Linked DNA regions of Homo sapiens. The protein of the gene in region 3 interacts with the protein of the main gene of each other region in a pairwise test. Each region holds a gene or a part of one and is shown on either strand. Other genes may lie near its edges.

Evidence for each region.
Region 1: the proteins of PCBD2 (region 3) and BRF1 interact in a two-hybrid assay, tested with the Homo sapiens proteins (one large-scale study listed by BioGRID and IntAct).
Region 2: the proteins of PCBD2 (region 3) and SSX3 interact in a two-hybrid assay, tested with the Homo sapiens proteins (one large-scale study listed by BioGRID and IntAct).
Region 4: the proteins of PCBD2 (region 3) and KCNIP3 interact in a two-hybrid assay, tested with the Homo sapiens proteins (one large-scale study listed by BioGRID and IntAct).

The regions. Positions count from the first base shown.
Region 1 is NC_000014.9:105,211,394-105,214,001, forward strand, and holds part of BRF1 (transcription factor IIIB 90 kDa subunit), read right to left. Parts: exon of another isoform or gene 782-2,608; intron 772-781; coding exon 720-771; intron 1-719.
Region 2 is NC_000023.11:48,346,704-48,350,203, reverse strand, and holds part of SSX3 (protein SSX3), read left to right. Parts: intron 1-81; coding exon 82-217; intron 218-616; coding exon of another isoform or gene 617-663; exon of another isoform or gene 664-807; intron 808-1,755; exon of another isoform or gene 1,756-2,599; coding exon 2,600-2,700; 3' UTR 2,701-2,704; intron 2,705-3,168; 3' UTR 3,169-3,500. UniProt on the Homo sapiens protein: Could act as a modulator of transcription.
Region 3 is NC_000005.10:134,903,933-134,907,930, reverse strand, and holds the start of PCBD2 (pterin-4-alpha-carbinolamine dehydratase 2), read right to left. Parts: upstream 2,801-3,998; 5' UTR 2,792-2,800; coding exon 2,708-2,791; intron 1-2,707.
Region 4 is NC_000002.12:95,310,847-95,314,346, reverse strand, and holds part of KCNIP3 (calsenilin), read right to left. Parts: intron 1-3,500. UniProt on the Homo sapiens protein: Calcium-dependent transcriptional repressor that binds to the DRE element of genes including PDYN and FOS. Affinity for DNA is reduced upon binding to calcium and enhanced by binding to magnesium. Seems to be involved in nociception.

The DNA.
Region 1 (2,608 bases), on a different chromosome or scaffold from region 3:
TCCCGCCACACCAGTGGCTCCCGGGGTTGGCCAGGGCTCCCAGGCCCACTGGCCCCTTCTGGCCTCCTGGGGGCTGTGCCATGAGCTGTGTCAGCATCAAGATCCCACCCTCAGGCCTCTGCCAGCCCCTGCTCCTGTATCCTACTGGGCCCCACCCCAGTGCTCGGGGAGCATGCAGAACACCTTTCCAGACCATAGGCCTCGGCCGAGGACACTGTGGCCTCAGCCCCCGGGGGCTTGGCCTGCCCTGACCCCCAGAACACAGACAGAGGCTCTGCTCCGGCCCCTGCCCCAGCCCCCGCCACCTGCCAGCACCTTCACCCTCGTTTCCTGGGCCAGACCAGTCCCCAACAAGTGACAGTCCAGGTGAAAGACCCCTGAGCCCTGGAGGGCTGGGCCCTGTGACCTGGCAGTGCCTGCTTCCTACATACAGGCTCCCTGCAGGCACCAGGCCCACAGCAAGGCTGCTCAGCCTTGGCCCGAGCGCTGAGCAGCAGGCACACAACGGTCCCCACTTCCTGCCCGCTCCTGCTCCGGCAACCGGGAGCTCCCACCCTCGGGCCTCGATTCTCTGGCCATGCCAGGCAAGTATGGGGCAGCAGGGGCAGGCGCCTCTGTCAGGCCTGCTCTCCCTGTGGTCACAGACCAAGCATCTGGGCCCAGGAAGAAGTGGGCTGCCTCCCAAGGTCTCCCTGCCCTGGCTGCGTGGGACAACACACCTCTCCCGTGGCCACCTTCTTTGCTGGCTGCGTAGACACCAGAGGCCTCAACCTGCAAAAGGAAGCACAGCATGGCGGCCTCAGCCCAGGCTCCCGAACGCCTGCCCACTTGTTCCCTTTTGCCCATCTTCCCTTTCCCAGTGTTAATTGACTGTTTCTCTGTCCCTTTGGAAGCCTGGTTCTGCGTCCAGGTTCTGTGTGCTCCATCAGTGCTCACTGCACATCAACACAGAGCTCTGACCCGTTCACATTCTCAACAGCGAGCAGCACTCGACACAAACACAGAAGCTGCAGACGCCCCGCTCCCCAGCCCACTCCCCTTCCAACAGTGCCTGAGCCCTCAAGGAGCTGCCTGGTGCCCTACCTCACTCAGGGAGGAGGGGAGGGAGGGTGAAGGGACACTGTCAGACCCGAGAGTGCTTCCCCAACCCTCACCAGGCCCAGGGCAATCCCTACATCTGCTGACAACACCCTGCACAGGGCCTGCTCGCCGGCCCGCCACACACAAAGGCCAAAGGTGCCTTCCACATGCCAAGTCTTCTTGGAGACTGCTGGTCCCCCCAGGGAGACAGGGGGGCCCAGGGGAGAGGACGCAGGCATTACCCACAACCTCCAGCACGGACACACAGGGCTGTCGGGCGGGCAATGAGAGGGCTCAGGGCCTGTGGGGAAGGACGCAGCGGGGCAGAGCCCTTCCCTCCAGGGCACAGCTGTGTGGGGAGGCGGTAGGGGGCCTGAGGCAGGGCCCTGCCTGGCTCTGACGTGTCAGATGAACCCTCGGGACACTGGGAAGGGACCCCATGACAGGTGGACCTTAGCAGAACATCTAGACGTGGAGCTCTGCTCGGGGTGAAGCTGATAGCAGGTGTGAGCCAGGCTGAGGCCCCGGGCTCCCCATGTGGTCCCTCTCCAGACTGGAGACAGTCTGGACACCAGGGCTCCTGGTGGTGCTGTATCCTCAGGCCAGGCCTCCAGCCTGCTTCCTGGAGCCTGACAGCTGCTGCTCCGCCCTCCCCACTCCCATCCCCAGGCCCACTGTGCAGTGGAGTGGGGGCCTCTGGGGATGGCAGCTGGCCCTGCAGCGGGGCTTCTCAGCAGGCTGACCTCAATGAGACACCCCACTGTGGTCTCTCCAGAAGTGGCTGGCGCTCCAGGAGGCAGGCCTGGCAGTTGGGTGGGAGGCCTGATCTTGGCCGGTGGGACTAAGTCCCCAGGAGATTCATGCTCTGGAAGGTGAGGCCAGCAGGCCCCCATTGAGAAGGGCCCTGAGACCCCGCTGGCTCAAGGAGAGGTAGTTTTTTTCTTTTTTTTTTTTCTGAGACGGAATCTTGCTCTGTCGCCAGGCTAGAGTGCAGTGACGCGATCTCGGCCCACTGCAACCTCTGGAAGAGGCAGTTTCTTTGACTTTGGCAGACTGTACCTTAGCTAGAGAGGAGCAGATGCTGGCGGGCAGGAATACGGGGCTACAGGGAGAGCGGTGCTGTTAGGAGGGTGCGCTTCCTGCAGGGACACACCCTCCCTCCCCCACCTGGCACTGAGGACAGGCTGAAATTCAAGCCACAAGGTCCTGCTGCACTGACCCAAGGTCCTGACAGACAAGTCCAGCTTTTCCAGAACCAGGAAGCAGCTGTGCCAGGCCTCACCCTGGGGGGCCAGAAAGCTCCCTACTCCTGCAGAACCCGGCTGGAGAGAGGGTGCGTAGTGTTCATGAGTGCAGAACCGCAAGGGCTCCTGGGGTCTGCGGGCTAGCTGGGGGCCTGTCTCAAGGGCTTCCCCCTCTTCCACGCAGTATCCTGTGTGAACCTGAGGCAGCCAGGCCACACGGGAGGGCCTGAGAGCGCCTGGAGAACAAGCTCCCACCTGGCATCACCTCGGCCATGGCTTTGGCC
Region 2 (3,500 bases), on a different chromosome or scaffold from region 3:
CATGTGAAGACCCTTTGTAAGCTCAAAAGCACTATAGAAATGTCACTGATACTATTTATCTATGACCTTCACATTATAAAGATCATGCCCAAGAAGCCAGCAGAGGAAGGAAATGTTTCGAAGGAAGTGCCAGAAGCATCTGGCCCACAAAACGATGGGAAACAGCTGTGCCCCCCGGGAAAACCAACTACCTCTGAGAAGATTAACATGATATCTGGTAAGAGGAAGCAATTCAGGAACAATCCCACTGGCTTCCCTGGCGACGTTCAGGTGTGTGGACTGGGTGTGTGGCATGGATCCCAGATAACCCTGGGTCCAGGCTGGGCTGAGGAGCTTGCCCAGCTCCAGATGAGATGTTAGACATGACTTCCAGAGACAGACTGGAGTTGTCATCCATATAAAAAAAAACCACGTGACTTGAGGAAAGTCTTCCAAATTTCCTCAGCTCCAGGTTCCTAGTCCATAAGATGGAAATAAAGAATCATAGTTCATAAATTGTTTGGAGACATTAAATTTAATCTAGAAGGCCTGATGACATGAAAGGTGCTCAAGCGATTCTATCTGTGATAACCTGGGATCATATCTTACTCAGCTCAATGCCTGTTACCCAATACAGGTGTCCTTCAGAGATACTGCAGGTTCGGTTCCAGACCACTGCAATAAAGTGAGTCACACACATTGTTTTTTGTTTGACAGTGCATAAAACGTTATGTTTACACTACAGTGTAGTCTACTAAGTGTGCAATAGCATTATGTCTAAAAATGTATATACCTTAATTTTAAAATAATTCATTGTTAAAAATGCTAACAATCTTCTGAGCCTTCAGTGAGTCACACTCTTTTTGCTGGTGGAGGGTCTTGCCTCGGTGTTGATGGCTGCTGGCTGGTCAAGGTGGTGGTTGCTGAAGATTGGAGTGGCTGTGGCAGTTTCTTAAAAGAACACAACAATGAAATTTGCCACATCGATTAGCTCTCCCTTTCATGAAGGATTTCTCTGTAGTATGTGATGCTATTGGATAGCATTTTACCCACAGTAGAACTCCTTTCAAAGTTGAACTCAATCCTCTCTAGCTATGAAAGTCCTAGATGGCATCTCCTTCCAATAGAAGGCTATTTTATCTACATTGAAAATCTGTTGTTTCGTGTAGCCACCTTCATCAGTGATCTTAGCTAGATCTTCCGGATAACTTGCTGCAGCTTCTCCATCAGGGTTTGCTGCTTCACCTTGCACTTTTATGTTATAGAGACGGCTTCTTTCCTTAAACCTCACGAACCAACCTCTGCTAGCTTCACAGGTTTCTCCTGCAGCTTCTTCACCTCTCTCAGCTTTCATGGATTTGAAGAGAGTTCTGGTCTTGCTCTGAATTAGACTTTGGCTTAAGGGAATGTTGTGGCTGGTTTCATCTTCTATCCTGACCACTCAAACTTTCTCTATTTGAGCAGTAAGGCAGTTTTGCTTTCTTATTCGTGTGTTCACTGGAGTATTAGTATTATTATTTCCTTCAAGAACTTTTCCTTTGCATTATATACTATTATTTCCTTCAAGAACTTTTCTTTGCATTCACAGCTTGGCTGTTTGGTGCAAGAGGCCTAGCTTTCAGCCTGTCTTGGCTTTCAGCATGCTTCCTCACTAATCTTAGCCATTTCTAGCTTGTGATTTAGAGTGAAAGGCATGCGACTCTTCCTTTCATTTGAACACTTAACGGCCATTGTAAGGTTGTTAATAATCCTCATTTCAGTATTGCTGTGTCTCAGGAAATAGGGAGGCCCAAGAAAAGGAAGAGAGACGCGGAACAGCTCATCGGTGGAGCAGTCAGAAGACACAAAACATTAATCGATTAAGTTTGTCATATTCTATGGGTGCAGTTCCTGGTACCCCCAAAACAATTACACACAACAGGGTGATTATAGTCAATAATAACTTAATTGTACTTAAAAAAACTAAAAGAGCATAAATGGATTGTTTGTAAGGCAAGGATAAATGCTTGAGGATGGATACCCTATTTTCCATGATGTGATTATCATGCATTGCATGCCTGTATCAAAGCATCTCATGTACCCCATAAGAATATACACCTACTGTGTACCCACAAAATAAAGAACAAAAATTATTTTAAAACACTAAAAAACAACAAAAACAATTTTAGTAATAATAGTAAAGCTCACTGATCACAGATCACTATAACAGATATAATAATAATGGAAAAGTGTAAAATTGGTGAGAATTTCCAAAAAAAAAAATTGCAGCATCTGCGAAGCAGTATGAACATGAAGTGCAACAAAACAAGGTATGCCTGTGTGGCTTTAACAAATACGTGCTGTATGAAATTAGGTATGGGGGAATGTTCCCGTAAGTGAAGAGGTTGGGAATCTAAGCCTGAGAAGGGAAGGAGCCAGAAGCTAAAACTTTAATTGGCATTTGGCCTATATTGGTGTGGGTCTAAGGTCTCAGCCTCTCTAAGCCAGAGAATGTGAAAAACTGGATAAAGAAGGCCCATGGGCACTTGGGAGGAAGCAGGCATCTCCTTTTTTTGAGTAAACAGAGCCTAACACTCTCCAACCTACCCAACCCTCACTTTCCAACTATTCTCCATCATAGGACCCAAAAGGGGGGAACATGCCTGGACCCACAGACTGCGTGAGAGAAAGCAGCTGGTGATTTATGAAGAGATCAGCGATCCTGAGGAAGATGATGAGTAACTCCGTAAGAGAACCTTCCACTCATCCCCTGCATCCCTGCAGATGTGCTATTCTGTTATGATACTGGCATCCCATCTGTCACTTGCTCCCCAAATCATTCCCTTCTTATAATTTTCTAGTGTACAGCATTGAGGCTGAATGATGAGATTTCCCATGCTCTTTCTACTCCCTGCCCTGTATATATCCAGGGATGCTCCCTACCCAGGATGCTGTGGGGTCCCAAACCCCAGGTCAGCCCTGATATGCGGGCCACACCTTCCTCTAGCCTAGGAATTGATAGCCCAGGCGAGGAAGTCACTGTGGCATGAACAGATGGTTCACTTCGAGGAACCGTGGAAGGTGTGTGCAGGTCCTGAGATAGGGCAGAATCGGAGTGTGCAGGGTCTGCAGGTCAGGAGGAGTTGAGATTGAGTTGTCACGTGGTGGGAACTCACTGCCACTTACTTTCCTTCTCTCTTCTTGCCTCAGCCTTGGGGATATGACACATGCCCATGATGAGAAGCAGAACGTGGTGACCTTTCACGAACATGGGCATGGCTGTGGACCCCTCGTCATCAGGTGCATAGCAAGTGAAAGCAAGTGTTCACAACAGTGAAAAGTTGAGCGTCATTTTTCTTAGTGTGCCAAGAGTACGATATTAGCGTTTCCATTGTATTTTCTTGAAGTGTGTCATTCTGTTAGATATTAACATTTTCACTGATGAGCAAGACATACTTAATGCATATTTTGGTTTGTGTATCCATGCACCTACCTTAGAAAACAAGTATTGTCAGTTACCTCTGCATGGAACAGCATTACCC
Region 3 (3,998 bases):
AAAAAAAAAGTCCGGGCGTGGTGGCTCACACCTGTAATCCCAGCACTTTGGGAGGCCGAGGTGGGTGGATCACGAGGGCAGGAGTTCAAGACCAGCCTGGCCAAGATGGTGAAACCCCATCTCTACTAAAAATACAAAAAATTAGCTGGGCGTGGTGGCAGGCGCCTGTAGTCCCTGCTACTCAGGAGGCTGAGGAAGGAGAATCATTTGAACCCGGATGATAGAGGTTGCAGTGAGCCGAGATCGTGCCACTGCACTCCAGCCTGGGCAACAGAGTGAAACTCCGACTCAATTAAAAAAAAAAAATCAAAAGAGATTCATTCATCAGTTTTCCAGTGACAGTTCTGAAAAACTTACACATACATCTATCATAAGAAATCTAAAATTCTTGGCCAGGCGTGGTGGCTCATGCCTGTAATCCCAGCACTTTGGGAGGCCGAGGCGAGCAGATCACAAGGTCAGGAGTTCGAGGCCAGCCTGGCCAAGATGGTGAAACCCGTCTCTACTAAAAATACAAAAATTAGCCAAGCGTGGTGGCACGCGCCTATAGTCTCAGCTACTCAGGAGGCTGAGGCAGGAGAATCGCTTGAACCCAGGAGGCAAAGTTGCAGTGCGCCAAGACCGCACCACTGCACTCCAGTCTGGGCAACAGAGCGAGACTCCGTCTCAAAAAAAAAGAAAGAATTCTGAAATTCTTATTAAACACTTATTTTGTCAACTCAGAGAATTTTGGAAAAGAAACAGAATTATGTGTGTCCACACTGAGTAGCTGCAAAGAAAACCATTAAACATGCTGCCTGTAATAAGGCAGGAACCTGGAGTCTGTAGAACACACTGAGCTGTTTTCTCTGAGTGCTGGACCATCCACATCCCCGCTAAGATCAGTGGTATGCACTTTATGCCCACAACAGACACCTGCCCAGCAGCAGGGACCACACCCAGGACTGGGAAATGGAGCCACTTCATCTACATAACATCAAAGGCCCCCATGAGGGCACATTCACAGCAGAACCCTTGGTGGTGGGCTTAATTTTTTCAGGGGATGGGGGGTAGGCTAGGATTTGAAGAGAGTAAACTAGATCTAAGGCCTAACTTTGTTACTTTTAGCTGTGGGATACTAAACTCCGCTTTTCTGAATTCCGGGATCCTTCTGTCTGTAGTGGGGATATTATAATATCTACCTGCCAAGATTTTTTGAAAGGCTTAGATTACAGATCTTGAATGTGAGGGTACCTAGCATTGAGCCTGGCATGGGGCAGCGCTCAAATCATGTCTGTTGACTCATTCCTTCCCAGAACACCCTAATCTTACTGGATCACTAGCACCTGGGGCAGAGTACGCCTGAAGACACGCCTAGGTGACAGTAGGCACTCAACTTGTGTTCTCCCCTTCGTGGACAAGAAGCGGCGGAGTGCCTATCTTCCTCCGTCTTCGAGCTATTTTAAATTTCTTCTATTACAGCACTTTGGGAGGCCGAGGAGGGTGGATGACGAGGTCAGGAGATCGAGACCATCCTGGCTAACACGGTGAAACCCCGCCTCTACTAAAAATACAAAAAAATTAGCCGGGCGTGGCGACGGGCGCCTGTTGTCCCAGCTACTCGGGAGGCTGAGGCAGGAAAATGGCGTGAACCCGGGAGGCGGAGCTTGCAATACGCCGAGATCGCGCCACTGCACTCCAGCCTGGGTGACGGCGTGATTCTCCTTCTCAAAAAAAAAAAAAAAAAAAAAAAAAAATTCTTCTATTAAAGAATTTCAGGCCAGGCGCAGTGGCTCGCGCCTGTAATCCCAGCACTTTGGGAGGCCGAGGCAGGTAGATCACCTGAGGTCAGGAGTTCGAGACTAGCCTGGCCAACATGGCGAAAACCCCTCTCTACTAAAAATATAAAAAATTACCTGGGCGAAATGGCACGCGCCTGTAATCGCAGCTACTCGGGAGGGTGAGGCAGGAGAATAGCGTGAACCCAGGAGATGGAGGTTGCAGTGAGCCGAGATCGCGCCACTCCACTCCGGGCTCGGCGATACAGCGAGACTCCGTGTCGAAAAAACAAAACAAAACAAAACATTTCAAACTGAAATGGGCGGTTAAAATGCAACTTAAAATGAGATGGTGAGTTTAACGCACCACTTTTCCACTAGGTGGTGCTGCATGTTAAAACTTTCCCTCCATTTACTCCAAAATATTAATTTCTACAGCAGGAAAACTGACGGCCCCTTGGAAAAGGAAAGAAAAGTCAATATGTCACCAAAAAAGACAATTTATTAATAACTCCTCCAAAACCTCTGTGGGTTCCCCTTGGAGTGAAGCGCGAGCAGGGAGCCGCCATAGGGAGCCAGGCCCGCAGCGCCGTTCGTCCTCAGCACAACGAGCGGCAGCGGGCACCGAATTGTTCTGCAACTACTTTTCACATCTGCCTTTTGTAGTTGCTGAACAAAATTCGTTCCCATTTGTTTCCGGTTGGCAAGTTCGTAGGCTTCGGCGGAAGTGTAAAGTCAAGGGCAAGTGGCGGAGGCTGCGGCCACCCCGGTCTCTGAGCGGCGCACCGGACAGGTGGTCAGTCCCGGGACGCGGTGACCCGACGCCCGAGCTCCAAGGCTCGGCCCACGCCGGGTTCGCCCCAGTCCCGCTGGTCCCTCAGCCGACGCCGCCGGGCCTCGCACCGCCCCCCGACCCCGGACCCCCACCCACGCGGCCGCTGTGCACTCACCATGGCCGCTAGCCCTAGGCTCTGGCCTCGCAGCGCCGCCAACAAGCGCCGCGTCGCCCCGAGCGCCCCGAGCACCGCCGCCATTGGCCGTCTGCCGAGGGCTGCCCCGCGCGCTGCCTGCCGGCCGCCCACAGCCGCCCCCGACCCGACCACGCCCAGCTACCGCCAGCCCTGGTAGTCTCCCTGCGGGGCTGGCCCGGAGCGGGGTCTGTGTGTGGGAAGCGCCCAGCCTTCCCGCGGGCACAGGCGCAGCCCGGACCCCGAACACCCCCAGGAGCTTCAGCGGTCGCCAGCGCCCTTGGCCGCCAGGTGGACTCTGCGCGCCCCACAGCCGTAGGCCCAGCAGGCGCGCGCGGTCCCCGCCCCGTGCGGGCCCGTCGCGTCTGTGCCCGGGACGCAGGTCGCCCGGCGCGCGCTGGCCTTGCCCTCCGGTCCTCGCTGCGCTAGGAGGAACTTCGCCCAGCCTCGGGCGCCGGCCTCCTCCGCTTCGCGGGCGCTAGCACCGAGCTGGGCTCCCCGCTTGGCGGCGCTGCGCGCAGTCCATGCGGGCAGGAGGATGTCGTAGGCCAGGGCGGGGCAGTTGAGCGGCGGGGCTGGGGCAGTGAACCACGGCAGTTCCCATCGGGGGCTCCTAAGTCTTGCAGTAGTGGGTTCGAACGCAGCCTCTGTTCAGTCATCACGCAGCTGCCAAGTTCTTGAGCCAGCTGGCTCGTCTGGGTTTGCCTGGACCAAAAAGTGTGGAAACCCGGCCTGTAATCCCCTCCCAAACGTGTCCGTGCCCTGTTTACCCCCAGGCTCAGCACACAGTAGGAGCTCTGCAGACAGCTGTGAACAGATTTAGGTGAATCTTTTCTTGTATCATTTTTGGGGAGGTATTCTTTCATTCTTTTTTTTTTTTTTTTTTTGACTTTTTTGAGATGTAATTGACATACTATTAAGAATACTCACTTGTATCTTTTTTTTTTTTTTTTTTTTTTGAGACGGAGTCTCGCTCTGTCGCCCAGGCTGGAGTGCAGTGGCGCGATCTCGGCTCACTGCAAGCTCCGCCTCCCGGGTTCACGCCATTCTCCTGCCTTAGTCTCCCGAGTAGCTGGGACTACAGTCACCCGCCACCACGCCCGGCTAATTTTGTTTTTGTATGTTTAGTAGAGACGGGGTTTCACAGTGTTAGCCAGGATGGCCTCAATCTCCTGACCTCGTGATCCGCCCGCCTCGGCCTCCTAAAGTGCTGGGATTACAGGCGTGAGCCACCGCGCCCGGCCTCTTTTTTGTTTGTTTTTAACTGAATAGT
Region 4 (3,500 bases), on a different chromosome or scaffold from region 3:
GTTAATTCTCAGAAATCCTTGAAAATTTGCACTGATCTGACATCTCACTTTGATATCATGTATCTTGATGCTTCATGATGTCAATTGTATCCTGTATCTTCAAATACGCGAAAATTCTGTTTATAGATCTTTACGTATTAGAGACGAGTTAACTCACCTTTTGTTCCGATGCCTTTCTGCTACCCCTCTTTCCCAGGAGCACTGGTGGTGGTGTCTTTATGATTTTACGTGGGGTTGCCATGGCACCCCGGGGAGAATGAGCATCTCCCTGGGATGCATCGGCGACTGAGGAGGATGTGGGTCTTCTCTCTGGGGGAGGGGCATGTGCATGCGTGTGTGTAAGTATGCGTGTGTGTGTGCTCATGTGTGTGTGTATGTGTGTGTGCTTGTGTGTGTATGTGTGTGTGTGTGTATGTGTGTGTGTGTGTGTGAGGAATGGCTGCACCGTGTCACACAGAAGCGTGCAGCAGCTGCTAGAGCGTTCCTGCCAGAGTGGTCCAGGATGCCAGGCATCTCCCAAGGCGCTAGGTGGGGCCCTGGCTTCGTCCCATTCAGACCTCGTTCTCTGGTCCTCCGGAGTTTCTGTGAACTTCCTGAGGCCTGGAGCCCACCCTGTTTCGGTTGTCTGCAGCTGGGACCCCAGGTTATTTGTGGGTGACATTATTATTCCAGTTGAAGAAACCCAAGTCCCACAGCCCTTGTGGGCATCAAACTTGAGAAACAGGTCTGTCCAGTTGTGGCACTGGCCATGCCTCTGGAGAGGCATCCTGCAGGGAGAGGCTTTAGATGCAGGGGAGGCATGCAGGGCAGGCCAGAGTCCCAGCTTCCGGGTCATGGAAGAGGGTCCAAGGAGCTTCTAGGCTGAGGATGGGGCGCCTCTCCTGGGTAGGGTGGGGCCAGGCTGCCTGTGCTCTGAGTCTCCTGGGCTCCCCTCTTAGAGGCCCCACTGCTGGCCACCTCCTGACTCCATCCTGGGGTCTTCACACCCAGAATTGGCCACCCAGGGCCCAGCCACAGATGCTCTAGCCCTTGCCCACTGTCTCCAGGACCCTGGGTCCTGTCCACTCCTTGCCGACGTTCTACCTCACCCAAGCCTCCAGGACTCCCAGGCTGGGCCTTGGCTTTCACTCCCAGCTGTTCCCGACATGTGTCTCTGGCCCCACTTCTGCTGAATGGAAAAACCCCAGTACAAGGGCACAGTGTCTGGGCCGCCCCCCTCCCACAGGACCCCAAGGCTCAGGACACCGTGCTGGGCCTCGCAGAGCACACAGTGGGGCTGCACTGAATGGGCCCCATTGTTCTTTGCACCCAGAGCCTGTGCCAGCTCCCAAAGAGGGGGGATGCCTCATCTGCACACCGCGCAGCACTTCACACGTGCACAAAGCCCTCAGTGTGACCACACCAGCCCGGCCTCCTTGCGGGACACACACGGGACGTGTTTGGACTGAAGAGAGGAGACCCGGGAGCTATGGCCAAGGGAGACAAAGGGCACATTGGAGTCCCGGCTCCTCTGTCCGTGAGGTCCCTGGGCTCCCTCGTCCCTCAGCTCCCACCAAAGACGCTCGTCAGGGTGGGCACCGTGGAGCTCTGGGCCCGAGCCTCCCCCACCCCAACCCCCGCTTCTTGTGCCATCTGCTGAGTCACGTGACCTCTCTGAGCTGCCATGGACGCTCTGGTAAATCAGGGTGATGAGCTCCACACTGCCTTCCTTGCACAATCAAATAGGCTCTTGGATGTGTCGTTCACATCTGCTCCCAGTGCCGGCACAAGGTCCGGTAAACACATCCATGCAGGGGAACAAACCCATCGCTGGTGCCCTGGCCCAGCCCTGGCCCTGTCTCCTGTGCGCCTTTGACAAGTTGTTCAGCAAACGTGTCCTGACAGCTGGGTGTGGAAAGGCCCTGCCCTCTAGGAAGCTTCCGTGAGGTGGGATGGGGCATGCAGGGGTGGGCCGTGCAGGGGTGGTCCCCCCCGCCCTGACTTGAACACGCCATGCCGGCCCCTCTGTCACCTTTCTCCCCGTCCACCCCACTCAGCATAGCTGCTGCTGTCACGGGTGTGCAGAAAGCTTCGGCAAAGGATGCACACCAGCCCCACCCGTCCTGAGCCACCTCTGCCTGCCAGAGAGAGACGGGAGGATGAGGCTGAGCATCTGCAGGACCTGAGGGATGGAGGGAGGGTACCACTGCAGCACCCCTTAAATACTTGTTGCCACCAAGAAAACCCTGGAAGACTGAAGTGGAGGAAATCTGAGTCTCGAGCGACCTGAAGCTGTGCCCGTCAGAGTGGACCTGAGCCGCCAGCACATGCGATGGCCACCGTGCTCTCGCCCCCACCCTAAGGGAGAGCAGGCGCATTTTCATTCTGATGCAGAATGAACAGTGCCCTGAAGGCGGTCCTTCCCGGTCGAGCTATGTGCATGTGCTTTTAGTGACCTCATCATGTTTCTGCTACCTGCAAAACCTGCCACCCCCATCCCCGAGAAGTTGGGGGTGCATGTGGAACTCACTCATGCATTCACAGGTGCTAGCGCTTCCATGGGAAGGGGTTGGGGACAAGTCTCAGCCAAGGTGACAGCATCACAGATGGGTAGGGGCTCTGTGGGGAAGCAGAGGTGGTGGTGGCAAAAGGGAGGGGGCTGGAATCGTGCTGGGAGCACCCTGGAGTGGCATTTGTGGGTAAAGGACGGGGATCTGGTGCGTAGCAGCCAGTCCCTTTGTGCACAGGCATGGACCTCTGGCTGTGGCTGTCAGCCACTGTGCCTGCTGTTTGCCCAGACCCCTCAGTTGATCCCCTCCACTCATGACCCCCATCAAGCCTAGGAGGCTGGGACCCCGATCATGCCCATTCTCCTGGCCAGGGGACAAACGCTCCCTGGAAATCACACAGCTAGAGAGGGTCCAAGAGAGCAAACAAGATGCAGCTGTCAAGGGCAAGTCTGCACCTTTTCCTTAAAGTCAGAGGCAGACTCTTATACGCACCATACTCACATGTGTGATCCCATGAGTGTGCATGGTGTGTGGGTGCCTGCATGTGGTGTGTGTATGTGAGTATGCAAGTGTGTATGGTATGCCTACCTATGTGTGCATGATGAGTGTGCAAGCTTGTGTGTGGTAGAGGCACCGGTGTGTGTGCATAGGTGTGAGTGTGAGGTGTCTGAATGTGTGTGTGAGATCGTGGGGGCCGCATGAGGCTGCCATTGTCTGTTCAGCCCTGTTATACTCGGCAAACACCAAATATCACCCATGGCAAGCCCAGGGCAGTGATTTCTGCCCGTTCTCTCGTTAACACACCACCAGAATGCAGCCCAAGGCAAAGAGCCAGCACCAATCCTTGGGGTGCACTGAACAGGACCAAGGAGGGGCTGAGGGTGGGGCCTCCTGATCACCAGGCACTGCACACATTATTTCCCATCTTCAAATGTGCCCTGTGGACAGGTTCCAGCCTGGCTTCTCACGGAAGGCTTAGAAAGGATCAATGAGGTGCCCCGGCTTACTCAG